4 linked regions of the Homo sapiens genome follow. The protein of the gene in region 2 interacts with the protein of the main gene of each other region in a pairwise test. Each region holds a gene or a part of one and is shown on either strand. Other genes may lie near its edges.

Region 1 (7,085 bases), on a different chromosome or scaffold from region 2:
CATGATCATGGCTCACTGCAGCCTTAACCTCCAGGGCTCAAGTGATCCTCCCACTTCAGCCTCCAGAGTAGTTAGGACTATAGGCATGTGCCACCACACTCAGCTAATTTTTGTGTTTTTTGTAGAGATGGTATGTTGCCCAGACTGGTCTCGAACTCCTGAGCTCAAGCAATCTGCCCATCTCAGCCTTCCAAAGTTCTAGGATTACAGGCGTGAACCACCGCGCACAGCCCTGTCCAGGTATTTAACACCTCTTTCCCCCTTGACCCTGGGAGTTCCTAGAGGGCAATGACAGTTTGTGATAAATTTTCATTGTCACTTTCACATGGGGGTGCAATTCCAGATGGAGGGATGGTTGCGATGATTCCTGATGTTCAGTTTTTGATATCTGCAGATTCCTCTTCTAAGTCATAGGTACTCATGCCTTACGGAAAAAGACAAGGTACAGCCCATTACTGATTTTGCCCTTCTTTTCCAAATTACTTAGCCAACTGTCCGGAAAGGGACAGAAAGGCCTCATGGGGCTGCAGGAGAGTCTGAAGGGGAGGTCTGGGCCACCATCAGGTGGATTTAGCCGGGCCTTGGCTCCAGGCTTCAGGCAGTGCCTCTTCCCCTGCCCAGTGAAGTCAGTAAGTACAAGGGAAGCCCTAAAATGTAAGTATTGATAGCTCCAGTTTACAGATGGGAAACTAACGTCCGGAAAAGTAAAGGCAATTGCCCAATGTCCCAAAGGTCCACCAGTGAGTTTGAGGCAGGGCAGGGGGAGCCATGGAAAATACCTTGGCCTCAGAGACAGGGTCTCCAACAGGTGCCTGGAAGCCCATGGTGTCCACATCTTCCTGACAATCATGTCAGCAGGACAACAATGACACTTATCCCCCAAGTCACAGAGAGGTACAGAGAGACCCAAGAGAGGCTGAGTCACTCCGATCACAAGGCAGCCTAGGAAGGACAATGGAGTGGAGAATGGCTCCGACTCCCTGCTATGCCCTGCAGGAAGAAAAGCCTGACCTCATGGGTCAAGAGGGTCTTAATTTCAGGGCAGATGGATGTGGCTGGGGAAGGAGTCACATACCTTCCTACTGAGGACAGAGGCCTAGGTCACAGTGCTGGCCAGCCAGCTGCAATGGGGACTAGCCATCAAGGTTCATGCAGACACAGCATGATCTTCTGCCGTCCCCCCCAAAGCCTGGGCCTCCAGCACAGAGCAGGGCTCCCCTCCCTGGCCCATGAGGGGCCTGGCAGTGCCCTAGGGCCATCCACAGAGACATGACCAAGTGGACTCCAGCCTCCGCCCTGCCTCTGGCCCCTTTTGACCTTAGGCAAATCACATGGCCTCTAGCCCTCTGGTTCCTCTGCTAGAAAACAGGAAGAGGAAAATTAACCTCCTGGAAGAGCTGTCAGGAGGATGGCTGGAAAGTAGTTTCTAAACATTAAGAGCCTGAGTTGCCTCTGAGCCTGTTTCCTCCTCTAGAAAATGGAAATAATCTCTGCAAGCCCTTTCTCACACTGTGGAGAGAGAGTCTTAGATGGCAGTGGGTGAGAAATAGCTTTGTCAGTGGCCCTGAAAGGTGGTGCCCACCGGGGTGGTGTCTCTCTAGTCTGTTAGCTCCTTCAGGGGAGGAGTGGGCCTTGCGCATCTTTGATCCCCCACACTACGCCTAGTATACAGCAAGAGCTTAATAATAAATGGAAACGAGGAGAGGGGAGGGGAGGAAAGGAAGGAGGCAGAAGTCGGACACAAGAATAGAAGAGAAAGACAGAAAACAATGAGAAAGAGGGGGAGCCCAGGGAGAGGCTGCTGTGCCCACTTAGGGGGTGGGGAGGGCAACGGGGAAAATAGGGTGGCAACGCTGAGCCCCTGACCAGCGCTGGTCCTGTCTGAAGGGCTGCCCCCAGGGGCTGTCCTGCTCCAGCCCCCTCCTCCTTTTGTCCCAGTTTCCCCTTTCAGAGGCAGAGACTGTTTCTGAGTATTTCAGGACAGGTTCTAGGAGAACGGGAGGGGTTCTCCCAGCCCTAGGTTCAAAACAGCCCCTGGCCAGCCACTCCTCAGGAGGTCAGAGGGAAAGGGAACAGAGTAGATGGATGGGATCTATTTGGATGAAATGCGATCTGTTTTCCCCAGGCTGGGGGTGGCGGGGGGCGCTCTACCCTGTGTGATGTGTGTGTTTCCACTTCTGGCCATGTGGGGCCTGAAGCGTGTGTGTCAGCGGGCCTTGGGCTAGCAGCTCGTGCCTGTGGGGTGCCAGTCTTTGAGGGCATCAGTCTGATTGTGTCTGTGGGGGTCAGTGTTGGTGTGGCCTTGCGCTCCGCTGTGTTGGTGAGACATGCCAGCACAAGTGTGTGTGCCAGTGAGGGTGATGTGTGTGCCAGCAAGAGTGTTTGCTACAGCGAGTGCAGGTGACAGTGTGCGTATCAGTGTATGCCCACACGTGTGTGCCAGCACGAGGGTGTGCTAGAATTGGTGTGTGTTGGATTGTGAGCTGTGCATGCCAACAAGGCTGTCAGCAAGAATGTGTTGACCGAGGCGTGTATGACGGCGTGCCACTGCGTGTGATGAGCGTGTGCTAGCGGTTGCCAGTGTGTGCGCCAGCATGCCTGTGCCACGGGTTAGTGTGCCCGTGCGTGTATTGTGTGTCAACCTGCCCCCGTGCGTCTCTGCGGCTGCCGGCCAATGCTGGGTGTCAGCGAGCTGTGTGTCCGGGCCAGGAGCTGCGGCCCACATGGGGCGGCCCGGCCCTCGCCCTTTGGGTCCCCCCGCCCACGGCCCTGCCGGGGAGACCACACAGGAGACCTCGGGTGGAGGAGAGCTGGTACTAGATCCCGCGGTGGCCGCGAACGCAGAACCAGGACGCAATCGGAGCCCCCGCCCGTGTCCTCGCCGAGGTCGCCCCCACGCGCCCCCCGCCGGGCGGCCGCCCTGCACTCACCGGGTCCCTTTGTCGCCCATGGTCCGCGACGGTCGCAGGGAGGTCCGCGGCGTCAGCGCCCAGGCTGGAAAATCCCCAGCCAGCAGGAGGAGCGCGGGCCAGCCCGCTCCCGGCTCCCTGCTCCGCCTCCTCCGCTCTCCCGGCCGCCGCCGCCGCCCCCGCCCCCGGTCCCCGCCCGCCGCCCGCCGCGTCGAGCAGCGCAGCGCCCGGGCCGCGGCCAGGGGCGTGGAACCGCGCGGGGTGTGTGCGTGTGTGTATGTGTGTGTGTGTGCGCGTCTGCGTGTGCGCGCGCCGCCCAGCGAGGCAGGGCAGCGCGGCGGGACGCGTCAGGGCCCCAAGGTCGGCGTTTGTGGTGGGGGAGGGGGTCCACCCGCGTGCGAGTCCGTGTGAGAGTGTGTGTGTGTGTGTGTGGTGGTGGTGGTGGTGGTGTGGTGTATGTGAGGGCGCACGGCTGTGTGCGGGCCCTATTAGGGAGTGTATTGGTGTGGATGGAGGAGTGTGCACGTCTTTGTGCAGTTGTGCGTGTGTGCGCACGGCCGTGGGTGCGAGCGCGCTCTCCCGCGCATGCCGGGGCAGCCTTTGTGTGTGCGGGTGGTTGGAAGCCGAGGGTCTGGCGACCCCGAGGCCGCGCTCCCTGCGGCCCCTCGCTTAGCTGGAGACCCCGGGATGCCTGGCAAGGCCTTCGCCCTGTGCTCCACCCTTCCCCATTCCACCCACCCCACCCCCTTCTACTGGAGAGATAACACCCAGCCACACAACAGGGACAGGAAGAAGGGGCGGAGGGGGCAGTAGACGGCCTTGACACTGGGGAACTGAGCGGAGACCCGCGGCCAGCAGGGGCTGCAGGAGGCCGCCCAGGAAGAGGAAGCTGTGAGAAGTGAGAAGAGGCGATAAAGGAAGAGGGCAGAGCTGGCCCGCTGCTGTGACCGGGTAGCACCGTGGAAAGCGCCCATGCCCAGCTCCATGGCTCGCTGTGGGTGACCCTGTGCACTAAGCTTCTGAGAACCCATGTCCGGACCTGTAAAGTGAGGATACACTAATATCAGCCTGCAGAATTGTTAATAGGTTGAAAGAACTCGCTTGTGTTTGCTGGCCTCCCCTGAGCGCCTGCATACAGTAGGTGCCCAGTAGATGTTAGCCCACTTCTCTGCAGGCTTCTTGATGTCCTGTGAAATCTTGGCTGGGACCCTGCTTTGTCTGAGGTGCCTTCCTGCTTTGCAGGTAGTGGGAAACGGTAAGGTCTTTACCACACCCTCACTACTGAGATTTGGCTAATTATCCCGGATAGGTCCCTGATATCTAAGTATTAAGGGGAAAGTAAGCTATCATTTACTCTGATGCTGTTGTGAGTATGTAAACATCTCCTGTAATTATGCTCAGAAGCAGTTACCTATACTGTTTATATGCAGTATAATTACTATAATTATGTCCAGATTTGGCAGAGGGGCAGGGGGAGGCTGATGGGTAGGCAGGGTGGCCCACCTCTGGGCAATGTTAGGAGCTAGAGAGTATGGATGAAAGCCCAGAACCCTCCTCCCAGTCTTGGCCTCTGGGTTTCACCCTCTACAGAGGAAGAAGAGGAAGCCACCTGTTGTTTCTGCAGGGCTCAGAGATCTGGAAAGGAGCAGACTAGAATCTTCTTTGATGACAGGAGATCCCTAACCAGGATGGTGAAGCCAGGTCCTGCCACTCTCCACATCAGTTTCCCCACCTGTAAAACAGGTTTGACCAAACCATAAGATCTCCAATGGATCTCTCCATGCTGATGCCCAAAACATCTAAATATATTTATTTATTTTATTTATTTTTGAGACGAAGTCTTGCTCTGCCACCCAGGCTGGAGTACAATGGAATGATCTTGGCTCACTGCAACCTCTGCCTCCTGGGTTCAAGAAATTCTGCCACCTCAGCCTCCCCAGTAGCTGGAATTACAGCCACTGCCATCATGCCCAGCTAATTTTTGTATTTTTGTAGAGATAGGGATTCACCATGTTGGCCAGGCTGGTCTCGAACTCCTGACCTTAGGTGATCCACCCACCTTGGCCTCCCAAAGTGCTGGGATTACAGGCGTGAGCCACTGCTCCCGGTCGATTTAATTTACTTTAAATTCCAGTGAGGGAGCAACGATGGCAGAAGAAGAGTCAAGAGGACAATTTTGCTTTACCTGCCAGGCTCTATGAAAAACATATATATATATATATATATATATATATTTTTTTTTTTTTTTTTTTTTTTGAGACGGAGTCTTGCTCTGTCACCCAGGCTGGAGTGCAGTGGCGCAATCTCGGCTCACTGCAAGCTCTGCCTCCTGGGTTCGGGCCGTTCTCCTGCCTCAGCCTCCCGAGTAGCTGGGACTACAGGCGCCCACCACCACGCCCAGCTAATTTTTGAAAAACATATTTATGTATTAATAAAATGGCCGGGCATAGTGGCTCATGCCTGTAATCCTAACACTTTGGGAGGCCAAGGCGGGTAGATCACTTGAGGTCAGGCGTTCAAGACCAGCCTGGCTAACATGGTGAAACCCTGTCTCTCCTAAAAATACAAAAAAAAAAAAAAAAAAAAAATTAGCCAGGCATGGTGGCGGGCGCCTGTAGTCCTGGCAACTTGGGAGACTGAGGCAGGAGAATCACTTGAACCTGGGAAGTGGAGATTGCAGTGAGCCGAGATCACGCCACTGCACTCCAGCCTGGGTGACAGAGCCAGACTCCATCTCAAAAAAAAAAAAAATTAATAAAATGTAAAAGTGATAATGTTGAGGAGAACTCTTTGTATATCCACAATATAATCTCAGCCAGTAATAAGTTTTATGAAGAAAATAAAGCAATAATGAAACAGGGTGATAGGGACAAGTAGACTTAGAAAAAGGCCCTAGGCCCTCCGAGGAGGTGGGCTTTGGGCTGAAACCTGCGGAAAAGAATCAGCGATGTGAGGGGACAGTCAGGGAAGATGCTGCCCAGGCAGAAGGAGCAGCAACTGTAGAGGCGCAGGAGCAAGGACAGTGCTCCTGGTGTTGGTGAACAGGCAAGGGGTGGTACAGGTGAGGCAGCAGGGTTGGGGTCACACAGAACTTGTAGTTGAGGATGAGGAGTTTGGGGAGCCAGTGGGAGGTTTAAGCAGCTGAGCACCAGTATCTGCTTTACATTTTTAAAGGTCACTCTAACTGTTGGATAGAGATGACTTGGTACTGGACAACAGCAGAGGCAAGGCACCCCATTATTGCAGTCGTCAGGGTGGGGTTTTGGGCAAGACAGGTGGCCACAGAAATGAAGGAAGTAATGGGGTTCAGGATATATTTGGGAAGCAGATTTTTTTTTTTTTTTGAGACAGAGTCTTACTCTGTTGCCCAGGCTGGAGTGCGGTGGCACGATCTCAGCTCACTGCAAACTCTGCCTTCCAGGTTCAGGCGATTCTAGTGCCTCAGCTTCCTAAGGTAGCTGTGACTACAGGCGCATGCCATCCTGCCCAGCTAATTTTGTATTTTTAGTAGAGACACGGGATTTCACCTCAAGTGATCCACCCGCCTCGGCCTCCCAGAGTGCTGGGATTACGGGCGTGAGCCACCACGCCTGGCCGGGTTCAGGATATATTTGAAAGGGGAGCTGCCAGCACCTACTGAGGGACTGGCTGTGAATAATGGAGGATCCAGGATGACTCAGAGGTTTGGGTCAGGGTCTGTCTGTGCCAACTCTCCATGTAATTCTCCAAGGGAAGTCACGGTCGAGAGGACTGGTGGCCTCCATTCTTCCCGTCAACCCATTTGTGTCACATCCTCCACCTGAGCAACAGAGTGATTTTTGCTCAAAGGCAAATGGCTTCTGCAGCTGAGGCTCATAGGAGATGGTCATCTCCAACTGTGTTCCAACTAGGGCGAGTCACATGCCTGAAATTTACCACTCACAATCATTTCTTATTAAAAAATGAGAAAGGGTGGTTCTGGGTGTGGTGGCTCATGCCTGTAATCCCAGCACTTTGGGAGGCTGAGGCAGGAGGATTGCTAGAGCCCAGGAGTTTGAGACCAGCCTGGGCAACATAGTGAGATCTCTACAAAAAATAAAAAAACAAAAAACTAGCTGGGTTTGGTGGTGTGTGCCTGTAGTCTTAACTACTCGGGAGACCAAGGAAGGAGGATACCTTTAGACCAAGAGTTTGAGG
Region 2 (6,993 bases):
CCTTGTGGACATATGCCACTTCTTGGTTAAAAATTACAAATATGCACGCACAGTTAAACCAAAATCAGCTGTACATTCTATTAGCTATTAGAGTAAACAAATGGCCTAGATGTAATCTGAACAAACTAAAAGACTATAGGTATTTAGTGACTGCTCAGCAATATTTACCACATGACAAAATGATGTTGCTATAGATTTCTTTCAAAAACAAATGAGGTATTAGAGAATTTTCAAAGGTTTAACAAGACCCAGCTTGAAGTGACAGAAAAAACCTTCATAATGTGTTTTTATAATGTCCTTCACATCAGACTACCAAGGGTCCTGTGCTTGTTCAAACCTGTAGTCTCAACCACCCTTTGTCTCCCATGAAATCTCCATCCTCCTTCCTCTCAAGAGTTTCCCTACACATCCCAATCCCAAAAGAAAAATCAATAGCTTACAAGAACACAAGAACAGCTTTTCTAAAGAACCATCACCAACTTAGAATTTGTTAAATAAAACAGAACCGAGAAAGAAATCCAGCCTTAGAACACTGAAACATCTAAGTGCCTGACACATAACAGGCATTTATTTGGCAACGGTATGTTGACTAGACACACAATATTGATAAAAAAAAATTTTTAAATGTAGTAACTGGACAGTACATGTGATAATATAATCTGCCCAACTGGCTTTACTGATTTGGAAGCTGAAACTCAAAAGGTTAAAGGACTTGTCCATGGACACAGATATTTTGGAGCACAGCCATGACTAAACAATCCTTGTCTCCTACTGCACTGTTCCCTTCAACAGGTCATATACCTCAGCCCCTCATGTAAAAAGATACAATATGTACACAAAATACATAAAAAGATACAAGCCAAATAAAAAGCAATTTGATGACTATTATTTCTCAAATATAATTGAGGTAGTTAACTTCAAACATTATCAGTCTTAATACACCTTTCCCATAATATAATTACTTCACCGATCTAAAAATGTTTTATGATATCAAATTAAAATGTCTTAGGCAACTGCCATGTGCAGGAAGTTCATTATAGTTTCAATAATGTGGTACTGCTGTAAACTTCCAGGTTAAAAGTAATCATCCTTACATGACTGAAAGTTTAATCAGATACATATAAGTTACACATAACAAGAACAAAACTATAACACTAGGAAATGTTACTTTGTGCTTCAAATTATTTATTGGTAAAGAAAGCATTAAGTCAGTAAAAGCAGCATCTAAGAATAGAGAATCTCCTTATTTTCAATTTTCTCATTTGTAAAATAAGGAGTTACAGAAATACAATCTTTGGAAAAGGCCCAATATGTAGCAAGATAAAAGTATAAAAGTAAAGTGTTTCAAAGAGAGTTGGGGACCAAGCTATGCTAAATTCCCAAGTGCTCTGGAACCCTAAGTCTCAGCAGAGTAGTGTTTCAACAAATCCCTCCACTTTTCGGAGCGCAACACATGTAAAGTGGTTGTGTTTAAAACCCCAACGTGCAAGTTTGAAAAGACTGTTTTACAAAACAATTGTTAAAATGTCTAATTTCTCTCAATAATGTCAAAATCATTTCCTTTGAGAAAATGATACCTATCTCTCATACTCTTCCAACCACTTCTTAAAACACATTCAGCTCATTATTCCAATGAGCAGGAAACTTGCGGGGAGGTGGGGCTAGCACACAGATCCCATGGCTTGGACAACTGAAGCATGACTTTTGTGGATTTGTACCATGTGGTGTTTCAGGAGAGAAGAAAAATACCTCAGGTGATGAAATTTTCAAAACGTATCTAAAACTGCAGTTGGTAGAAGGCTCTCCACAGCCAGCTGTCTTTCAAGAAAAGGCTCCAAGTTTATTTAAAATCTACAAGCAGAACAGAACCATACCTCAACCAAGCTCTAACATCAAGAAGTTTTACCCGATTTACGTAGTTAAAAGGATAAGAAATCGGAATTTACTTCAATGGATTTGTTCGATGCCTTAATAATGAATGAACTAGAGGCATCACTCACTGACTTGAGTTCTGAAGGAGTCTCTCAGCCCTGCCCCCTGTAAAACCTTAAGCAATTTCTACAGAATTAGGTTTTTCGAGGCTAAGCCCGGTTCAAAGGAAGTCTCCCCGCCTCCCTCCCAGGGGCTGAAGCCCAGGACAGCCGGGGCGGCGCGCCCGAGCGGGTGGGGGCGCGGGGACGCCCCCTCCCCGCTCGGGAAAAGTTCTGCAGGCCGCTCTCCGGCCAGGCCGGCCTGCGGCCGTCGCCTGCTTCGCCGCCACAAACACCCATCTCGGCCGCGGACGGCCAGAGGGTCGCGCCCCCTCCCCGCGCCACCGCAACTAACACCCCGCCCCCGCCTCCCCGCCACCGCCCTCGCCGAGCGTTAACCCCTCGCCGTCCGCCGCCCGGCTCGGGGGAGGAGGCCGGCCAGGGGGTGGAGTTGTCGCGTCTCCTCCCGGGAGCGCCCGGGCAGACGCCCGGCTTGTTTACAGGCCCCAGGCCTGCCCGCCGCCGCCGCCGCGCAGGCCCGCACCGCCCGCCAGCCCGCCGTCGGCCCGAGCGCCGCACTTACCCGGAGCAGCCGCAGGCGGGCAGGTCCCTGGTCGGCCGAGGCGGCGGCGGCGGCAGCCGGGGAGGGGGTCACCGCGGCGGCGACGGCGGCAGCCGGGGGAGGGGTCACCGCTGCAGCGGCGGGCCAGGTCAGGCTGGGGAAGGGGCGGAGGAGGGGAGGAGCCGGGCTGCGTCCGGGCCCCCGGCTGTCGGCGCCCTCGCGGCTCAGATCATCCGGGCGTTGGAGAGGGAGGCAGAGAGCGGGTCCCGGAGAAGGAGGAGGAAGAGCCGAGGACTCATCGCTTTCGCGCCTCAGCTGTCTAGAGTCCCCCCACCCCCCCCTCCCCAACCACCCGTTCCGGAGCAACAGCCGCCTGAGGACCCGAAGCTGCGGGCCGGACGAGCGCCGAGACCACTGCTCTCTAGCTCCCGCGCGCGCTCCCGTCCCTAGCGCCGCCACCGCCGCCGCCGCCGCCTCTAGCGCGGCCCCGCGCAGGCGCGCTCACGACCGCGTCGCCCCTCCCCCACCCCTCCGCTCGCCCCGCCCCGCTGGCTCCGCCGCCGCTACAGCTGCGGCGCGGCGCGCAGCTACAGAGACCCGGATGTCGTTGGGCAGGAACTGCGGTGAGGGCTGGCGGGCGGGGGAGGGGCCGCCACAGATGACGTCACTGCCTTACCCAGCTTCTTTCTCTGCCGCTGCTGCTGCCGCCGCCTTTGCCTTACGGCCTGGAGCACCAGGCCGAAGCCGAAGGGAGCGTCCGGATCCCGGATAGCAGCCAGGACCCGGGCCTTCACGTTCCGGCGCCAGGGACTGGACAGAATGTGCGGCTATTAGGTGCCCAGTAGATCGACAGCCCCTCCGTGCCGGCCCTTGGCCAAGTAGGGACTCGGAAGCTACCCCTACGGCGTCCGCGCCCGGAGCCCTGGCTCTTCTACCTGCCTGCAGATACAAACCCCACTCCCTGCGAAGATGGTGTACACGCAGCCCCGAGCACAGACCCGAAGCTGTCCACCCTTCTTGGGCGCCGTCGCGGTCTGGCCGCTGCCCTTCGAACCCATGGTGGGTCCCAGGCAGCTGCCAGACCCCCCTACCCCAGAGTCCCACTCCTCCAGAGCCTTCCTCTCCCAGTGACCCCAGGAAGCCCAAGCAGGTGCCACGGCCACACACCTCGCGACCCAAAGGGCAGAGACACAAGCACGCTACCACCGCCCACCAATGTGCGAGTGCAACTGATTCACGCACGGGGCACATGCTCTGAGTTTCTGGCAGGTTTTCCCTCTATAGTTCAGGGGATTCCACATTGTATTTATTTGCACATGTTAGATAATCACGTGGTTCTGTCCCAGGGGACCTCCAACGACCTCCAATGAGGTAGGTTAAGGGAACAGGATTTTTCAAAATCAGGAGAATAATCAGAAACATAACAGCTGCTTCTATTAAGAGGTAGAGATGAGCTAAAGTTAATAGAAACTGCACGTGCCAGCGGCCAAAATCCAGTTTAGCTAGCTGGAAAACCCGACCCACGCTGCTTGCAGACGCCGGGGATAGAATGACAAACCCTAGGCAGCCAATGAATCGCAGCCTAGGAGCAGTACATCACCAGCACGGGTTCCCATTGGCTGGGGTGCCCTTCCCTCTCTTGTCAGCGGCTTAACCAGTTCACGAATTTGACCTACACCACATTCGCAGGAAAAGAAGTTAGAAGAAAAGTCCGTATTTTTAAAAGATGTTCTGATGCACACACAAACCAAAGACTTCATTGTAGAAGGCAGGTTCTTTTACTGGCCAAATTGAGTTCTGGCCAGTAAAAAAGGTAAATTTATGTTGAAGGCCTCTCTATTTTACTTGAGGAGCTCACTATAGCAATTTGCACCCTACTACTTTCTATCTCCTAAACCATTTTGTTGCCCCAACTCTTAGATCAAAAGCAACCTATTTATTCTTTCTGGCATTCAGCAAATATTTAGCTGCTGCTTTTAAAGTTGTAAAAAGCCATCTCTAATTTTCTCAACATGACTTTGGGGAAGGTTCTGTTTCCTTCACTTTTTTTTTTTTTTTTTTTTTTTTTTTTGAGACAGAGTCTCGCTCTTTCATCCAGGCTAGTACAGTGGCACAATCTCGGCTCACTGCAAGCTCCGCCTCCCGGGTTCATGCCATTCTCCTGCCTCAGCCTCCCGAGTAGCTGGGACTACAGGCGCCTGCCACCACGCCTGGCTAATTTTTTTGTATTTTTAGTTCAGACAGGGTTTCACCGTGTTGGCCAGGATGGTCTCGGTTTCCTGACCTCGTGATCCACCCTCCTCGGCCTCCCAAAGTGCTGGGATTACAGTCGTGAGCCACTGTTCCCGGCCAGAATTCCTTAGAAGATGATCGTGGATCATTTCCACATATACAAAATAAAAATAAAATTCACTATGCATTTGGTCTCAGTATCATCTGAGGATACATTTCCTAATTCTCCACATATCTCCCCGACCCCCCAAAAAAAGAAATTAGATCAGAGATCTTTGAAACGCTACCTTCTTGGAATCCTTAATACTCCAGGCAAGTAACAGCATGAGTAGCATGCTGGTGGACTCATTAACATTCTGAACTACAAAAGCTCATATGGCAACCATTTAGAGTGCTCTTAAAAGACAAATTTTCTTATTTATAAGCAGAAGCTGGGTCACTAGTGACGGTAGTGGACCATAGAAAACTTGAAATGCCTGCCTATCTTTCTGCTTCCTTCCTTTAGGCTTCCACACCTTTCTTCTCTCTGTTCTGCACTTGGAGAATCTGGGTCAATTGTAGAAGAAGAGGGAGAGAAATAGAAAATATGAACAGAAAGAAATTTTTAAGGAGTCTACGCATTGTACAGACTGCCGATAAAGCAGCACCTTCCTACTATTTATTTCTGAATACAGCTTGCAGGGACATTTTGGTATGAACTAGGAAACTCATGGGTTATAAGATTAATATTTTAAAAAGATATCAATATTGTCTGATTAAATATGTTTAATATCATCATATCCCCTTTTATTAAACCTTATGCTAAGAAGGGGGGACAGATAGAAGGGGAAAATAACATTGAAAAAAGAGGATTGAAAGTTCTCTTCTGAACTGTAAGACTTTGCCGGGCCTCTACACATATTTGGGATGTTCACAGTAAGATTTTAGTGGGAATATATTGCCATGATGATGACATTTTAGTAATTTTTATAGGTATATTATAAAACTATCCTGCTCTGCTTTGGAAATCTGTTTATATTTCAATTAACAAAGAAAAAGATTATCTACAAGATTGGCTTTAAAGTCCTGAATTTAGTGTGTGTTGATAGCCTAGTAATTGGGAGGCTTGGGGTGAGGACAGGGGCTGTAGTGTGGAGTCTAAAGCTTAATCTGATCAGCAATACTCTCTTTCCCTTTCCACCACAATTGTGACTTAAAAAAAGGTTTACATTCCTGCTCCCAAATTACTCTCCAGGAGAGTCACCCTTGAGGCAGACTTGCCTGGGCCTCTCAAAATATATGCAGTAATGTAAATGACCCCCTCAGGAGGCTAGTATTTGAGAATACCCCTCACCATCCTTTTCCACTGAAGCCAGTCACTACTCAAGAGTTAGAAAGCCAACCAGAACATAGGTTCAACAATTCCTTCCTCCCTCACTACCTGTTTCATATTTTTTTCTCTCACACATCCTCTTCATTTGGTTTCCTCTTTTCTCATTTCTCCTTCTCTCTCCTCCCTTTTTCTTCTCTTCTCTTTTTGCCTTCTTTGCCCTTCTCTTCCCCATTCTTCTTTTCTCTCTTTTCATTAGCTTAGTACAAATTGTAGCTTCTGCTACCCATTTTCTCCCAGAACAGAACATGCGAGCAGACAGTGCCCCTAAATGAATTTCATTCAGGGAGAGGGTGTGCCCCCTACCCTGGCCCTCCTTCCTCCCTCCCCTACATCATAATACATTATGAGAAACTTAGCTGCTTAGAGGACTGTTACAGAATCAAAAGGATTAGAGAATCCTGTCCTGTGTGACATCACTGGGCAGCCCCATTAGGGAGGGGCAGAGGGGAGCAGCCAGCAGTCTTATGCTACCACTGTGGCTCATCCTGCGACCTGAGAGAAACCTGGGCAACTGTGAGCACCAGAGGCCAAGTCCTGGACAGTCTTTAGGGTAGGCTTTCACCTCAAGATAGCCATATATGGCCACAGCCTTACAATACTAGAGTGGATCTTGTCAGATAAGTTCATCTGTTCATGAGATAGCTATTGTGCACCAAGCACTGTGTGGGACACTGGAGGTAGATAATGACATCAATGGGCAAGCCCTGCCCACAAAGAGCCAACATAATAATAAGAGGCATAGACAAATAAGTCAGCAGATAGAAAGGAAATTGCATACTGTTATCCATGCTGTGAAGAAAATAAATAAGGAAACAGATCCGGGAGACGACTTGAAACAGGTGTTCAGTGCAGACCTC
Region 3 (7,752 bases), on a different chromosome or scaffold from region 2:
GCTTAAGAAGCACATGCATAACTTTATATCACACATTTAAAATATTTCTCTACTTAAAAAAAAAAAAAATCCCCAAAAAGCGCTGATACTTTGTGCCTCCCAAATTGACTTATAGCCTCTTTTCGAAAGCCTCACTTCTACAGGGAAGGGTAATAACACATCCATTATTCCAGGTCATCCCTGAACCCAATAAAAAGAACTACAATTACTACGGTTATGCTCATTTACCCTGCCAACAAGACCATCAATTTGTCCCAATTTTGGCAGTCAGAGCCTTCATAAAATACATTAATGTCTTTGCTTATTACTCAAGATGGAAAATTAGAAAAAGATCACATAGTATTTTATTTCATCAGTGAAAACAAAGTACTATGAGGTTTAAAAACTAAGCAATCTTGAAAACATACGTATGTTCTAATAATCTCCAGTGATCTCCCCTACCCACCCTCATCCTTTTCTGAGGCAGCCAGTCACTTGCCAACCAGCAATGGACATGCTCTCCCCCCACCACATCCTACCATATCATGTCCTCCCAAGTACAGTAACTTTGATGTAGCTCCCTCTTCCATTTAATCTTTTACCACTCACATCTAAGCTTATTCAACAACAGAGCATTTCTAACATTTAAATATATCATCTCTTAATATCTCCTTCTTATTTCCCAGTGTTTGTTTTTGTTTGTTTGTTGTGCTTTTTGAGATGGAGATTCACTCTTGTTGCCCAGGCTGGAGTGCAGTGGTGTGATCTCCGCTCACAGCAACCTCCAACTCCCAGGTTCAAGCAATTCACCTGCCTCAGCCTCCCAAGTAGCTGGGATTACAGGGACACACCACGCCTGGCTATATTTTACCTAAATAAAACATCTCTTGGTTTCTTCCATAAACAGAAGTACTTACTAAGGCTCTAGGCTTCTGTGCCCCCAATTTTAGAGGCCCAAAGTGGTTTGAATACCAGGTATTAATTACAAAGAAAAAGGGTACACCTGTATGAAGGAAAAGACCACCAAATGGTTTTAGGGCATAATTAAACAAAGAATCAGTACTTGCAACCTTTAAAGTTACAAATCTGTCAAGATGTATTTTAAACTCTACTGCCAGGGGTGCACTAATTAAACCTATTTTACCTTAATCACCACTCAATATAAAACAGCATTTCTTTTCTCATGTCATTGTTTGCTTTTTTTGTACACAAATACTGCAACATTGGTTTGTATGACCTCTCATTGCACAATGTCTCATTTTAATTCTATAGCATTTCAGCTGCACTGTAGGTTAAACTGGCTCTTTGGGCTAATCCAAACTGTAATTATAAACTTCTATATTGCATAACTCGAATTGCCTGAAAGACTTACAAATAATTCCATAGCTATATCCCTAGCTTTTAACTTAAAAGGTTCAAGAAAATACTACACCTTGGTTTTTAAAACACCTGAAAACACTTTAAGGTCAAAGACTGTTTTCGTGAAGCGAGCGAGCATGGCACATGCAGCACAGGCAGAATTCACAATCGCAACCAGTGCTGAATCCCTGGCTAGTTGGTTTCATTTTGTTAGACTTTTGAGCAAGACTTTAAGACAGTGAGTCTATTCTGTAACATAAATACCACACTGTGTCTTGTTTTCCAACAGGGGAAGGCAATTTTTTTAATTTCATAAATTTGTATTTAGCTAAAAGAGGTTGAATACCAAATTCCATCTCCCCCAAGTCATCTCCTCGCAAGTAGAGTAACCTTGATGTAGTTCCTCCCCCATTTCATCTGTCTTTCACCGCTCACATCTAAGCTAATTCAACAATGGGGAGTATTTCTCGAGTTTGGACTTAGAAATAAGACTATATGAAAGTCTACTTATAAGACTTGCAAAATGGTCTTTATAAAATATCTGTTAAGTCTATAAGGCTATTTGACTAAGACGTGAAAATAGACTCGAAGTATTTGTTGTAAACTACAGCATTATAACTTTTTTAGGTAACTAAAATTTTAAGTCAATAAAAGGCAAACGTTAAGCAAACCGCTTGACGTAACTAAGCATCGCAAAACTGTGATCCAATAATCTAGGGTCAATATTAAAAATCAAAAGTTTCTAGACCGAGCCTGAAGAAGTCTTAATTCTAGACAATGGCAAGGAAGGTGAGGGGCAGAAAAAAACCCAGAAACACTCCCAAAGCTCTGGAGTTACATTTTCAAGTCAGCAAAATGAGAGTTGGATTCAGAACTCTTGTGTAGGCATAATCTGTGAGATGTTTATAGTTTCAATGTACCATCAAAGTTAATGGATTAAAACTTTTTCAACTTGGAGGGGAGGAGTAGTTGACCTTCTCACATTTGTAAATTACCTCCCCTTTGGGGCTCAAGATTTTCTGCTGAGACTCTGAGCAAAAGCTGCTTGTGACGTTTGCCCGGGGAAGGTCTCGGAGGCGGGAAAAGGCTAGGTAGCGAAAGAATCCCTGGGGGTTCTGGGATGGGGCGAGAGGCGTGAGTTCCCAGTTGGGAAGGAGGAGGCGGCGACTTGGGGACTCGGTAACCTGTCCGGGCAGTGAGGCGAGCACGGGGAGGGGAGGCGAGAAAAGGGGAGGGTGGAGCAAAAGCTCGTGGGTGTAGGCCTTGGGCCGGGGAGAGGGAGGAAGCGCGGAGGGAGGCGAAGACGCTTGGGGCCGGGCACTCACCCGCCGGGCGCTCGGGCTGAATGGGCCGCCACCGCAGTGCTCGCTCGCTCAGCACCACGTCACAACTGTCCCTCCCGATCTCGAAGATGCCCCGGAGCAGAATCCGCTCGGCCGCCGCCTCCGTCTGCTGCGGGGACGTTAACAGCGCCGGAGGCACAGCGGCAGCCTCCGGGGGCGCCTCTTCCTCCCGGCCGCCCTCCAGGGCACTCACCCGGTTCCTGCGCCTCCTCCAGGGCATGGCGGAGTCGCAGGCTGGGCCCGAGCCAGGGGTCCGGGGAGGCCTTTGGAGAAGGAGGTGGAGGGCGCGGCAGCCCCAGCTCTAGCCGCGTCCAGCGCTGCCACAGCAACGGCGCGCAGGGCAGGGACCCAGGAGGGAGGCGGGGCCGCGCCTGACCCAGTCCAGCACCCTGGCCTGCCAGCCTCGCCGCTTCGCCACTCACCACAAAAAGACCCAGCTGCAAGAGGAAGAATAAGTGGCTCCCTCCGCCTAGCTTCTCCTGTAAAGTACGATTTCGTACTTTTCGTTACCCTCGAGTTAAACCAGCCCTCCTCAATCTTAAACTTGCATATAATCGCTTGGGCATCTTGTTCAAATGGAGATTCTTATTGCATAGGTGTGGGACTGGCCCCCAGATACCACATATCTAAGAAAATACTAGGTGATGGATCCCACTGGCCAAGGAACACACTTAGAGTTGCAAGGGTGGAAGCCTCTGTTTTTCCACCTCCTTTCCAGAGGGTTCCCTGGAGAGCACAGGTGACGCTTTACAACCCTGTTTCAGAGTAGTAGCGCACTTCCCAAAACCCCTGAGGGGAAGCTAGAGATAAGGCCCTGGTTTGCATAGACAAATTTGCATCTGACAAATTCAGTATTAAAGGTAAGTGCCTCCAGGTGTAAGTATTTAGGGTCCTACTTTCCCCCAAGGTAGCGCCTCTGCAGTCTTGTCTTTGCCTGGATCTTGCACTCCCTTGAGGGAGATTACAAGCAGCAGGGCTTCACTTTCACGCACTGCCATAAAGAAGTGTCACCTGGAAAAGGAGAAGAGCCCTGGGGGGGTTCACCCTTTTCTCCTGATAACTGAGATTTCTAAAATCAGCTGCTCATTAATTTTGATAACACAGAGAGTCTGGAGGCTAGTGATTCTCAATTGTGGTTGCACATTAAAGTTACATAGGGAACTTTTGAAAACCCAAATGTCCAGGCCACGCTCAAGACAACTAAGCTGGAATCTCTGGAGGCGAGACCCAGACTTCCGGATTTTTAAAAGTTCCCAGGTAATTCCAATGTTCAGCCAAGGCTGATAATGGCTGCTCTAAGCAGGGTGATAAAACAGGGAGCTGAGTACTTGTAATGGGGAAGCAGTCAGGAAGAAAGTGAGTCCCTGGGAAGAGGAGCAGAGTGGGAAGTAAAGCAGAAGGCTTTTTTTTTTTTTAAACAAGATCATTATCATCATATTGAAAAGAAGGAGTAGGGGAGTTGAAAAGGAAATTAAATTCATAGGGTTGTAGATCTAGTTCCAGTGTTCTAGTGCCTAAACAGTTCTATCATAGAGGCAGCAAATTCTTAATTCTGTCCTCATTCCTGGTCACACTGCAGAGTCACAGAAAGAGCTAACTATAGCAGGAGTTTCTCAAGGTTCTTAGCTCAGACGGTTTGTAGGCCTAACCAAATCCCTACCAAACATAAAGCACTGTGCACCAGTTAAGCTAGGACTCTTACTGTTTAATGCTCCGACAATAAGTACCCAAGCTTCGAGGAAAAGCAAGGAAGAGCTTCAGTTTGATCTGACTGCAGTGAGCTATTTCTTAGAGCAGAAGTGCAGCTGCTGCTAAACCCCATGCAGGCTTCAGGTGGCTCTGTTCAGCAGTCATTAGAGGGAAAAGGACGGTGCCCTTCGCAGAATGAGTTGCAGTTCTGGAGTCAGCATCTTGTATTCACAGCTGTTAGGCAATCAACACAATTAGAGCTCACTGGCATTTTAAAAGCTCACCCAGAGCCAGTGCAAACAGGCCAAGCCAATGGCTACTCCTTAGGAGCTTTGCAAAGGGGCAAGTTGCCATTTTTCAAGCTTCACTCAAGCCAGGAAGTCAAAAACACTGGCTTTGAATTGTCCTGAAGATGGAAGTAATAAGGATTGTGTTTCCTTCTTTCTTTCTTTTTCCTTTGATAAGCTGCCTTCTTCCAGGGCTGGAGTGCCCTAGGGCTCTCTTTAGGATCTATCCACACACTGTCCCGTGCTTTATGTACCATCCAGGGTTCTGCAAATGATGTCACCAGCTCCAACCACTCTCCTGAACTTTAGGTATTATGTCCAGCTCCCTACCTGACATCTCTACTTGGCTGTCCAATAAGCTTCTAAAACATATCTAAAACCAGACTCATGATTTTCCATCACAAACCTGTCCCTCTCAGAATGTTTCAAATCTGTAGTATCAAAATCCTTGATATCATCCATGTCTCCTTTGTCTCATGCCTTCAATCCAATCTACCAGCAAATCCTGTCCATTCTGTCTAGAACATATAGTCCTTTCTGCCTGCTGTCATTGCAGTCTGCACTTCTGCACCCCTCAGCTGGACAACTTCAGTCTCCGCTCTCCCAACCCAGCTCTCTGCTTTCGGTTTCCCCTGTGCTGGCACCTCCAGCCCAGAGCCAATTTTCCATTTTGGAGTTACATTGTGCCTTTAAAAAATAACGAGAGCATATAACCCTGCTCACAGCCTTCCATTGACTTCCCATTATTCTTGGAATAAAGTCAAAATGCTTAGCAAGGCGAGAGGTCCTTTATAATCTGGACCCTGGCTATGTCTCCGAGATCACCTACTAACTTTTTCCCCTTGCTCATTCACACAAAGCCTTCTTGCCAGTCCTCAAACACATTGAGAAGAATAATCCCTTCTCAGAGCATTCGCTTTTGCTGTTCCCTCTGACTGGAATGCTTTTCTCCCCACCAGATGGTTCATTCTTTCACTTTGCTCATTTTTCTGTTTAAAGGCCACCACCTCAAAGAGGCCATTCCTGAGCACCCTCCATAATTCACCATCCTGTAAACCTGTGTATTCATTTCTTACTGCTGCTGTATCTAATTACCACAAATTTAGTGACTTGAAACAAAACCAATGCATTGTTTTACATTTCTGGAGGTCAGAAATCCAAAATCAGTTTCACAGGACTAAAATCAAGGTGCCAGCAGGCCTATATATTCCTTCTGTAGGCTCTAGAGGAAAATATATCTCCTCTTTTCTGGCTTCTAGAGCAGCAGTCCCCAACCTTTTTGGCACCAGGGACTGGTTTTGTGGAAGACAGTTTTTCCACGGATGGGGGCAGTTTGAAGGGGTGAGCATTTTGGAGGCATTAGATTCTCATAAGGAGCACAAACTAGATCCCTTGCATGTGCAGTTCACAGTAGGATTCAGGCTGCTATGAGAATCTGATGCTGCCACTGACCTGACAGGAGACAGGGCTCAGGTGGTAAAACTTGCTTGTCCACCAGTCACCACTCACCGCCTGCTGGGCAGCCTGGTTCCAAACAGGCCACAGACAGGTACTGGTCCATGGCCCAGAGACTGGGGACCCCTTTTCTAAAGGTCACCTGTGGATTTTGTTTTGTTCTGTTTTGTTTGTTTTGGCTCATGTTCACTTTTTCCAACTTCAAAGCCAGCAGTCTAACATCTCTCCTCTTTGCTTCTATCCTTAAATCGTCTCTTTTCCTCTGTCTTTGACCTTTGTCCCCCGTCTTAGATAAGGACTCTTATGATTACATTGGGCCTGCCCAGATAACCCTTAATTATGTTTTCAAAGCCTCTTTTGCTATGTAAGGTAACATATTCACAGGTTCTGGGGATTGAAACATGGACATCTTCACGCTGCCATTAATCTCTCTACCATAACCTGCTTTAGTATTCTTTACAGCACTTACTATTAATTCTTATTACATACTTCTTTGTTTATTGTCTAGCTTCCCCACTAAGTTAGTGTACTTAGTAACAATACTGAAATACAGAGAACACTCAGTAAATTTTAAGTTTGTTAGAATATAAGCCCCCTGATGGCAGAGAATTTATCTTGTTCACCATTAAATCCCCAGTATCTATCACAGTTCTTAGTACACAGTAAGTGCTCAATTAATATCTGAAAGAATGAACTTCTTCAACATTTATCTATAACAATAATACCAAGATACCCCAATTATTTCACGTTAGTTCCTGAAGATCAATTGTCTCATTAGTGATTCATGTGTATATATATATATGTTTATATATATGTGTGTGTGTGTGTGTGTGTATATATATATATATATATATGTAAAATACTAATGCATGAAAATTGCTTTCAAAAAACTTTCAGGAAGCTTCCTGAACATAGCTTTCCCTCCTTTGGCTGAAGCTTGGGTATTTGTTTCCAGAGCATTAAACAGTACAGGTCCTAGTTTAAAAGGCACTTTGTTGCTTTATGTTTGGAAGGGATTTGACTAGATCTGGAAACACAGTCTCCATCCCTGGTTCTTAAAAATCCAAGTCTGAGTAGAAGACTGTAAAATATATCCTGCTATTGTTAACATTGCTTTCAGGAGGCCTTTAAGTATGCTCTGAAAACAAATACCCAAACTTCCAGAAGAAGGGCAGCAAATCCCCAAGTAATAGGCCAATGAGACAGACTCTGGAAGTCTGGGCCACCTTCTCAGTGCCACAGATAGAGGGAGAAAAATTCACAGCCGACAGAGACATTCAGACCCACTGCAATGAGGGCAACAGACAAGGAAGTCTAATTCCAGTCAGGACCAACTGCCATGGATCTGAATTTTAGCCAGTGGGTAATCCTGTGGTAGTCCCTTTGATCTCCCTGAGTCTCTGCTGAAGTTTGGAGTTTATGTGACAAGTGATTGAGGGCTTATGCTATCATCAACATAGTTCTTTCTCAAACTCCAGTTTATAGAATTTTTTTTTTATTAAGAACTTCTCACTGCAGGTAGAATAAAATCCAAACTTCTATTATGACATATGAGACACCATGTTGTCCAATTCCTGCCCACCTGCTCAAACCCTCTTTTCTATCAGTTTTCTCCTATTATTAGTATGTGTCCTACCACA
Region 4 (7,457 bases), on a different chromosome or scaffold from region 2:
AAAAACCCTGTCTCTACAAAAAATACAAAAATTAGCCAGGTGTGGTAGCACACACCTGTAGTTCCAGCTACCTGGGAGGCTGAGGTGGGAGGATCACTTGAGCCTGGGAGGCAAAGGCTGCAGTGAGTTAGGATCACACCACTGCACTCCAGCCTGGGTGACAGAGTAACACCCTGTCTCAAAAAAAAAAAAAAAAAAAAGAAGAAGAAGAAAGAAAAGAAAAGAGAAATGGCCTGAAATTGCCCACCAAGGTTTCTTCTGGATTGCAGCCCATCTTTCCTTCCACCTCTGTCATGCTGTGCCTCTGGCCTCCACCCTTTGTTGCTCATGGTGTCTGTGTCCCTGAGTGTCTGCCATCCTCTGTCCCCATCTGCCCCCAACCACCTTGGAGAGGAAGAAGCCGCACCTCCATCTTGGATGCTCCCCCAGCCTGAGATCCAGCAGTGGGTGTTTGGAGGGAGGTGGATAGAGGCATCAGGTAGGCAGATGGGCAGGACCCGCTCTGAGAACTGTATGGAGCGCTCGAGACGCACCAGGGCAATGTCTGCACAGGCACCTTCCTTCCAGGAATACACAGGGTGGGGCTCCACCCAGGCAACACCCACCTTCTGGGACCGAGAGCCAGGGTTCCCCAGCTGCCAGGCCCCCAGCAGCACAGAGAACAGGTATGGTTTGTTCAGGTTGCTGGAAGGAAAGGGAAGGGGAGGATCAGCCAGGCCTGGTCTGGGAGGAGGTACCTGGGGGAACAGCATGGGTGTGAAGGCCCCTGAAGGCAGGAGAGGCTTCTAGGTAGAATCGAGGGGCACCAAGATTGAACAGAGGCCCGGAAGCAGAGCCTGTAAAGGGAGCCCAGGGCCTGGGGCACAAAGCCCAGGGCCTTAGAAGATCAAGTGCCCCAGGCCGGCTGTACATACTCCTTGAAACAGTGGGCAGCAGTGATCACCCAGCGGCTGGTGAGCAGAGAACCTGCGCAGTGGTGGGTCCCATTCTTCTGGATGCTCACGATCCAGGGCCACTCGCTGTCAGTGCTGTCCTCGCCGCCCACAACCCGGTTCAGCTGCTGGGGCTTCCCACAGGCTGGGGGAACTGGAGGGTACGGTCAAGTTTTGTTATCTCCAACTTCCTACAACCCACCCCCGGAATCCCAATCCCTAGGCCTGCACCCCAAGCTTTGCCCACAGCCCAAGCTCCGTTCATGTCCCCAAGCTCTACCCACATCCCAAGTTTCACTTGCACTCCAAGCTCCACCCACACCCCAAGCTCCACCCACATCCTAAGCTCCACCCATACCCCAAGCTCCGCCCACCTCCCCGTCCCATCCCTCCCTCCATCCTCACTCTCTGCTGGTCCTCACCTGGCCCTGGCCTTTCCACTCACTCCTTGTCAGCTGCACCTGGTCTCTCCCTCCCCCTCTTTCCTTACCCTGCTTTCCACTCTGTTCACCTTCCTGGCTCTCTCTCTCCTCTGGCCCTGGCATCTCTCAAGCCTTTCTCCTTGCATCCGTGTCTCCTTCCTGCCTCCCTTCCCCTCTAGCTCTTTCCCCCTCTCACCCCAGCCCCTTTCTGACCTGTGCCCAGGGGACGGACACATAGACACTGCCTGCGCGTGGGCCTCCTCCCTTCTCCCTCCCGTCAGAGCTGCCAGCTCCACTCACCAGGTATCCTGGCCGCATTGAGGATGGCTGAGGGCAAGAGAAGGAAACGGTTAGGCCGGTGAGGGGCCCCAGGACACAGTGGTGAGGGGCCCTCAACGCCCAGTGAGGAAGGCCCCCAACACCCAGTAAGAAGGGATCCCAGTGCCCAGTGAGGTGGAGGTCCCAGCACCCAGTGAGGAGGGTCCCTCAGCGCCCAGTGAGGAGGGGTCCCAGCACCCCCTGAGGAGGGTCCCTCAGCGCCCAGTGAGGAGGGGTCCCAGTACCCAGTGAGGAGGGTCCCTCAGCGCCCAGCGAGAAGCCCCCAGCACCCAGTGAGAAGGGGTCCAGTGCCCAGTGGGAAGGGGTCCCAGCACCCAGTGAGGAGGGGTCCCCAGCGCCCAGTGAGGAGGGCTCCCCAGCGCCTAGTGAGGAGGGTTCCCCAGCGCCCAGTGAGGAGGGGTCCCCAGCGCCCAGTGAGGAGGGCTCCCCAGCGCCCAGTGAGGAGGGGTCCCCAGCGCCCAGTGACGAGGGGGTCCCAGCGCTCAGTGAGGAGGGGGTCCCAGCGCCCAGTGAGGAGGGGTCCCAGCGCCCAGTGAGCAGGCGTCCCAGCGCCCAGTGAGGAGGGGGTCCCCTTGAGTACCTGGTGGTGAGGAACCTCTAGCCCTCCAGTGCCCAGGGAGACTCTCAAGTCTCTCAACCCCAGGGCCCCTACCGGCGGGGCATTTCCTGGGGCCTGGCCAGGCCCTGGCTGCACAGCTGTGACCCTGCCCTCCCGCAGCTTCCCGTCCAGCCTGCCTTCCGGGGACCAGGACCGGCTCCTCGAGGGAGGCACAGACCTGAGCCCCTCGGCTCTGGACGCTGCTGCCGCTGGTGTGCCCTCCCCTGACCTCCTGCGGCAGGAACAACACAAAACGGTGCTTCCCCAGAGGCAAGCAGCGGAGGACGAGGAGATGGGAGAACACGGAGGCGAGAGGGAGCAGGCGATGGCGACGCCGACGGTAACTGGAGACCGAGGCGCGCTGCGTACTTGCTGCGTTTTCTGTTTCATCCTCACAGCCGTAGAAGAAACCGAGGCACAGAGCAGTTAAGGAGCAAGAGATAAACAGAGCAGAAGCGGAAAGGAGATGAGAGAGGCAAGGCCAGGAGGGAGAGAGGGAGGGAGGGAAGGAGGGAAGGAGGGTGGAGGTGAGAGGGAGGAGGGAGGAGCAGCCTCCGGACGTACCTGTCGACGCCAGCAGCAGCAGGGAGGTGAAGGTGCCGAGACAGCCCCCACCCAGGGCTGGGGGCGCTCCAGAAACCACCATGGCTGGTGGGGCGGGGGAGCAGGCAGCAGGCTCGAGAGACCCAGGGCGATGCGGGTCAGGGTGTGTAGGTTCCCTGCAGGTCGCCCCAGGTTTTATCCTGGGAGGCGGAATGCCGTCAGACCAGTCCCCAGGTGGCTCCCGCGGCCACCCCGGCTGTGGGTCCTGGGCAGAGGGCGGGGCTGCGGGGAGGAAGCCAGCCGCTACAGGGCTCTGGGGGGGCTCTAGCTGAGACCCCAGGATGTGGCCTCTGGAAGGGCAGGGGAGGGGGCTTGGGCCCAGAGGTCCCTGACATTAATTGTCCAGGGGCAGAGAAAGGTGCCAGGGCACTGAAAGGAAGGGGTTCCGGGCTGGGGAGGGCCTGGGTTTGGAGAGGCTGAAGTCTGGGGTACTGGGTGTTGGGGGTGGTCCTAGGGCCTTAGGGATCAAGGGGGTGCCCAAAGCTCAGTAACGGCTCCCACCTGCAGGGCCCCAGGCCCCTGTGACTCAGCCCAGAGACCTGGCGCAACCCGGGCTTGGGAATCCCGTTAACCCACTTCCCGAAAGCTGTGAATCAGGTGAGTGGCGACCTTGGTGGCCTCCTGGTGGCCGCCCTCCTGTCGTTCCTGGAGGCGGGGCTCTGCCCTGCGGTTCAGACACCTGACAACTCACCTCACCTGGACTCCTGGGAAGGGGAGGAGCCCATGGGCACCAGGGCTCGGCCAAGCAGGGGGGTTGAGAGAAGAGGGGCCCCGGGAAGGGCTGGGACTCCCAGGATTCAAAGAGCTGCTGGGCTGGGCTGTGGGGGGCCGGGTCCTGGGCTGGGAGTGGATTCTCGGTGCTTCCCCCCAGCGGCTGCCACAGTGGCAACCCGGGGCTGAATCCTGTGAGACCTTCCCTGACTCAGTGCCCTGCAGCGCCCCACACTTGGGACACTCCCACCCAAGCAGGGCAGGCTTCCTCCTCTACAAAGAGGCAGGAGCCTGCGCCCCTTCACTCATTCGATCAACAAGCCTCCAGCAGGGCCCTTGCTACCGCCGGGGGTGAATTAAAAACAACCATAGTGTCTGGGTGGGGTGGCTTATTCCTGTAATCCCAGCACTTTGGGAGGCCAAGACGGACAGATCATGAGGTCAGGAGTTCAATACCAGTCTGGCCAACATAGTAAAACCCCGTCTCTACTAAAAATACAAAAAAAAAAAAATTAGCCAGGCATGGTGGCAGGCGCCCTTAGTCCCATCTACTTGGGAGGCTGAGGCAGGAGAATCGCTTGAACCTGGGAGGCGGAGGTTGCAGTGAGCTGAGATCACGCCACTGCACTCCAGCCTGGGCGACAGAGCGAGACTCTGTTTCAAAAAAAAAAAAAAAAAACCATAGTAGTGAATATGTATGTAATAAATATATTTATACAAATATAAATATAGTATTTATATAATAGAGCAAACATTTAGGAGTGCCATGCATTGCCTCCTAATCCTCAAATGTCTTTATTATTCCCACTCTGCAGATAAGGAAACTGAGGCAGCTTAGGGCGGTTAAGTGACTTGCCCGAGATTGCTGGGTGAGTGGTGGAGCCGGACCTGCACCCCAACACTGGGGGTGGCTGCTGGGACTGCCCTCATGGAGGCTTCGGGAGCCTGGAGGAGGTGCCTCACCCTGCCTGGGGTGAGCCCTAACTTGCTCCCTGCAGAGTCAGGGTGGCGTGGGTCAGGGGCTTAGCAGACCACCATGGCTGCTTCAGGGACTCCATGGCTCTGAGCAGGACGGGTTTTGCCCTGGGGGTGGACTCTGTGCTGCCCACCTCCTCAGTCTGTTAAGGGTTAGGGTGGCAGCAGGACGACTGGCACTTTCTCGTGGCAGAGAGGCCATGCCCTGCTCCACCGAGAGACAAGTCAAACAGCAGGGCCCTGGGGAGCCCCAGAGGATGCATTATTCTCTGTCCCAGGACTCAGAGGGGGTTTGGGGGAACTGCAGGAAAAGGCCACGCAGAGTGGCCAAGGAGGGGCAGTGTCTCTGAGCAGCAGCAGCACTGCAGCAGAAATTTCTGCTGGGCTCCCCCAACCCTACTCACTGTCCCCCGCTCAGCTCTGCACCCAGGGCGTCCAGGGCCCTCCTGCGCCCCACCCCACTGCCTTCTGGAATAAGGTGGGTGGCCTCTCCAGCTCACCCAGCAAACATATATTGAGTACCTGCTGTATGTCAGGCCCTGGTGGGCACCAGGACACATGTGATGAATAAGACGCAGGTCCTGTGCTCAGGAAGCACATGACCTCCTAGGGGTGGGAGGCAGATGACGGATGACAGGGAGGTGTCCGGGAGGTGGGCACAGAACCATGGGACCAGGCGGTGGCTTGGACCCTAGAGGGCCACTGTGAAGCTGGGTGCTGGGGAAACAGTGTGGGCAGGGGGGCTCCCTGTGGACCCCCAGGATCATATTCAGTGCCTGCTGCACCCTGGGGCTCAGCGAGTGTTTGTTGAATGTATAAATGAGTGTGGAAGAAGCAAGTCTGCAAGTGGCTGGGGACCGACCACTCCAGCCTCCCTCTCTGCCTCCCGCCCAGGTTTCCTCTCCATTCCAGCTTTTCTGCCTTTCTGAAGAGCCAGCTCACTGCCCTGGATACCCAAGGGTAGCCATGGGCCCTGCCCAAGATGCCGCTATCCCTGAGACAGGGTGGCCAGGAAGAGAGCCCCGAGGAGAAGGACCTGGTAGGAGCAGGGGGAAGCCCTGAGGAGCTGGGTGAAGATTTCCTGGCACAAGTCCTGGGGAAGGGCCCCAGACAGCAGTTCCTCAATTCCCAGGGTATAGAGGGTGGAGTCTCTGAAAGGCCACGGGGTGGAGACCCTGGCATGATTCAACATTCACTCAACAAAATATTTATTGAGCGCCTGCCAATGCTAGACCCACATGCTGGCCAGCATCCCTGCCTGTGCAAGCTCTGGATGAGCTGTGTGCCCCTGCCACCCACACCCCCACTCCCTGCCAGCCTGGCCTCAGGGCCTCTGATCCATGTGCACTGGAGTGGTGATGACTGACAGGGCCACTGGGGCATTTCCATGTTAACAGCAGCTGCCACTGGCAAAAGAAGTGACTCGCCAATGGTGGCATCTCAGATGTGGGCCCAGGAGTCTGGGGAGCTACTTTGAACAGGGCTATCCATTCATTGTCCCACCAAAGGCTATGGAGCCCACCCACCATGTGCTGGAGTAGTCAAGGGAAATAAGACACTCTCCTTGTCCTTGTTAACTCAATCAACAAGCATTTGCAGAGCACCGCCTGTATGCCGGCGCTGTCCGAAGTGCTGAAGATACAGCAATGAGCAAACCAAAAGCCATGGACATCGGATGAAACAGAGAATTGTAAACAATAAGTACATCATTTAGCTCTATGGAAAACAGGATAGAGATTTCTCAAAGAACTAAAACTAGAACTACCATTCAACCAGCAATCCCACCACTGGGCATCCACCCAAAGGAAAAGAAGTCATTTAATCAAAGAGACACCTGCACTCGTGTGTTCATCGCAGCAACACTGTTCACAACAGCAAAGCCATGAAATCAACCTAAGTGTCCATCAACAGATGATGGATAAAGAAAATGTGGTGAATATATACACAGTGGGATACTACGAAGCCATAAAAAAGAACACAAAACCATGTCTTTTGCAGCAATGTGGATGGAACTGGAGGCCATTATCTTAAGCGGAACAAGTCAAACACAGAAAGACAAAGATTGCATGTTCTTATTTATTTATTTACTGAGATGGAGTCTCACTGTGTCACCAGGCTGGAGTGCAGCGGTGCAATCTTGGCTCACTGCAGCCTCCACCTCCCGAGTTCAAGCAATTCTCCTGCCTCAGCCTCCCAAGCAATTCTCCTGCCTCAGCCTCCCACATAGCTGGAACTACAGGCACGTGCCACCACACCCAGCTAATTTTTGTATTTTTAGTAGAGGCAGGGTTTCAGCATGTTTGTCAGGATGGTCTCAATCTTTTTACCTCATGATCTGCCAGACTTGGCCTCCCAAAAGGCTGGGATTACAGGCATGAGCCAGTGTGCCCAGCCTTTTTTTTTTTTTTTTTTTTTTTTTGAGGCAGAGTCTTGCTCTGTTGCCCAGGCTGGAGTGCAGTGGCGCAATCTGGGCTCACTGCAACCTCTGCCTCCCGGGTTCAAGTGATTCTCCTGCCTCTGCCTCCTGAGTAGCTGCAATTACATGTGCACACCACCATGCCCAGCTATTTTTTATATTTTTAGTAGAGACGGGGTTTCACCATATTGGTCAGGCTCGTCTCGAACTCCTGACCTCAGGTGATCTACCTGCCTTAGCCTCTTAAGCATGTTCTCATGTATAAGTGGGAGCAAAGCAGCCGGACGCAGTGGCTCACGCCTGTAATCCCAGCACTTTGGGAGGCCAAGGCGGGCAGATCACGAGGTCAGGAGGAGCTAGAGACCATCCTGGCTAACATGGTGAAACCCTGTCTCTACTAAAAATACAAAAAATTAGCCGGGTGTGGTGGCGGGCGCCTGTAGTCCCAGCTACTTTGGAGG

Evidence for each region.
Region 1: the proteins of PPM1A (region 2) and ARRB1 interact in binary tests that used the Homo sapiens proteins (3 or more experiments, as listed by UniProt).
Region 3: the proteins of PPM1A (region 2) and CERKL interact in binary tests that used the Homo sapiens proteins (3 or more experiments, as listed by UniProt).
Region 4: the proteins of PPM1A (region 2) and PRSS22 interact in binary tests that used the Homo sapiens proteins (3 or more experiments, as listed by UniProt).

What each region holds. Positions count from the first base shown.
Region 1 is NC_000011.10:75,348,658-75,355,742, forward strand, and holds the start of ARRB1 (beta-arrestin-1), read right to left. Parts: upstream 3,005-7,085; 5' UTR 2,951-3,004; coding exon 2,931-2,950; intron 1-2,930. UniProt on the Homo sapiens protein: Functions in regulating agonist-mediated G-protein coupled receptor (GPCR) signaling by mediating both receptor desensitization and resensitization processes.
Region 2 is NC_000014.9:60,245,238-60,252,230, reverse strand, and holds the start of PPM1A (protein phosphatase 1A), read right to left. Parts: upstream 3,011-6,993; 5' UTR 2,554-3,010; intron 2,070-2,553; exon of another isoform or gene 1,750-2,069; intron 1-1,749. UniProt on the Homo sapiens protein: Enzyme with a broad specificity. Negatively regulates TGF-beta signaling through dephosphorylating SMAD2 and SMAD3, resulting in their dissociation from SMAD4, nuclear export of the SMADs and termination of the TGF-beta-mediated signaling.
Region 3 is NC_000002.12:181,654,106-181,661,857, forward strand, and holds the start of CERKL (ceramide kinase-like protein), read right to left. Parts: upstream 3,001-7,752; 5' UTR 2,902-3,000; coding exon 2,664-2,901; intron 1-2,663. UniProt on the Homo sapiens protein: Has no detectable ceramide-kinase activity. Overexpression of CERKL protects cells from apoptosis in oxidative stress conditions.
Region 4 is NC_000016.10:2,855,168-2,862,624, forward strand, and holds the start of PRSS22 (brain-specific serine protease 4 precursor), read right to left. Parts: upstream 3,004-7,457; 5' UTR 2,938-3,003; coding exon 2,856-2,937; intron 1,682-2,855; coding exon 1,655-1,681; exon of another isoform or gene 1,568-1,654; intron 1,087-1,567; coding exon 915-1,086; exon of another isoform or gene 753-914; coding exon of another isoform or gene 685-752; coding exon 407-684; intron 1-406. UniProt on the Homo sapiens protein: Preferentially cleaves the synthetic substrate H-D-Leu-Thr-Arg-pNA compared to tosyl-Gly-Pro-Arg-pNA.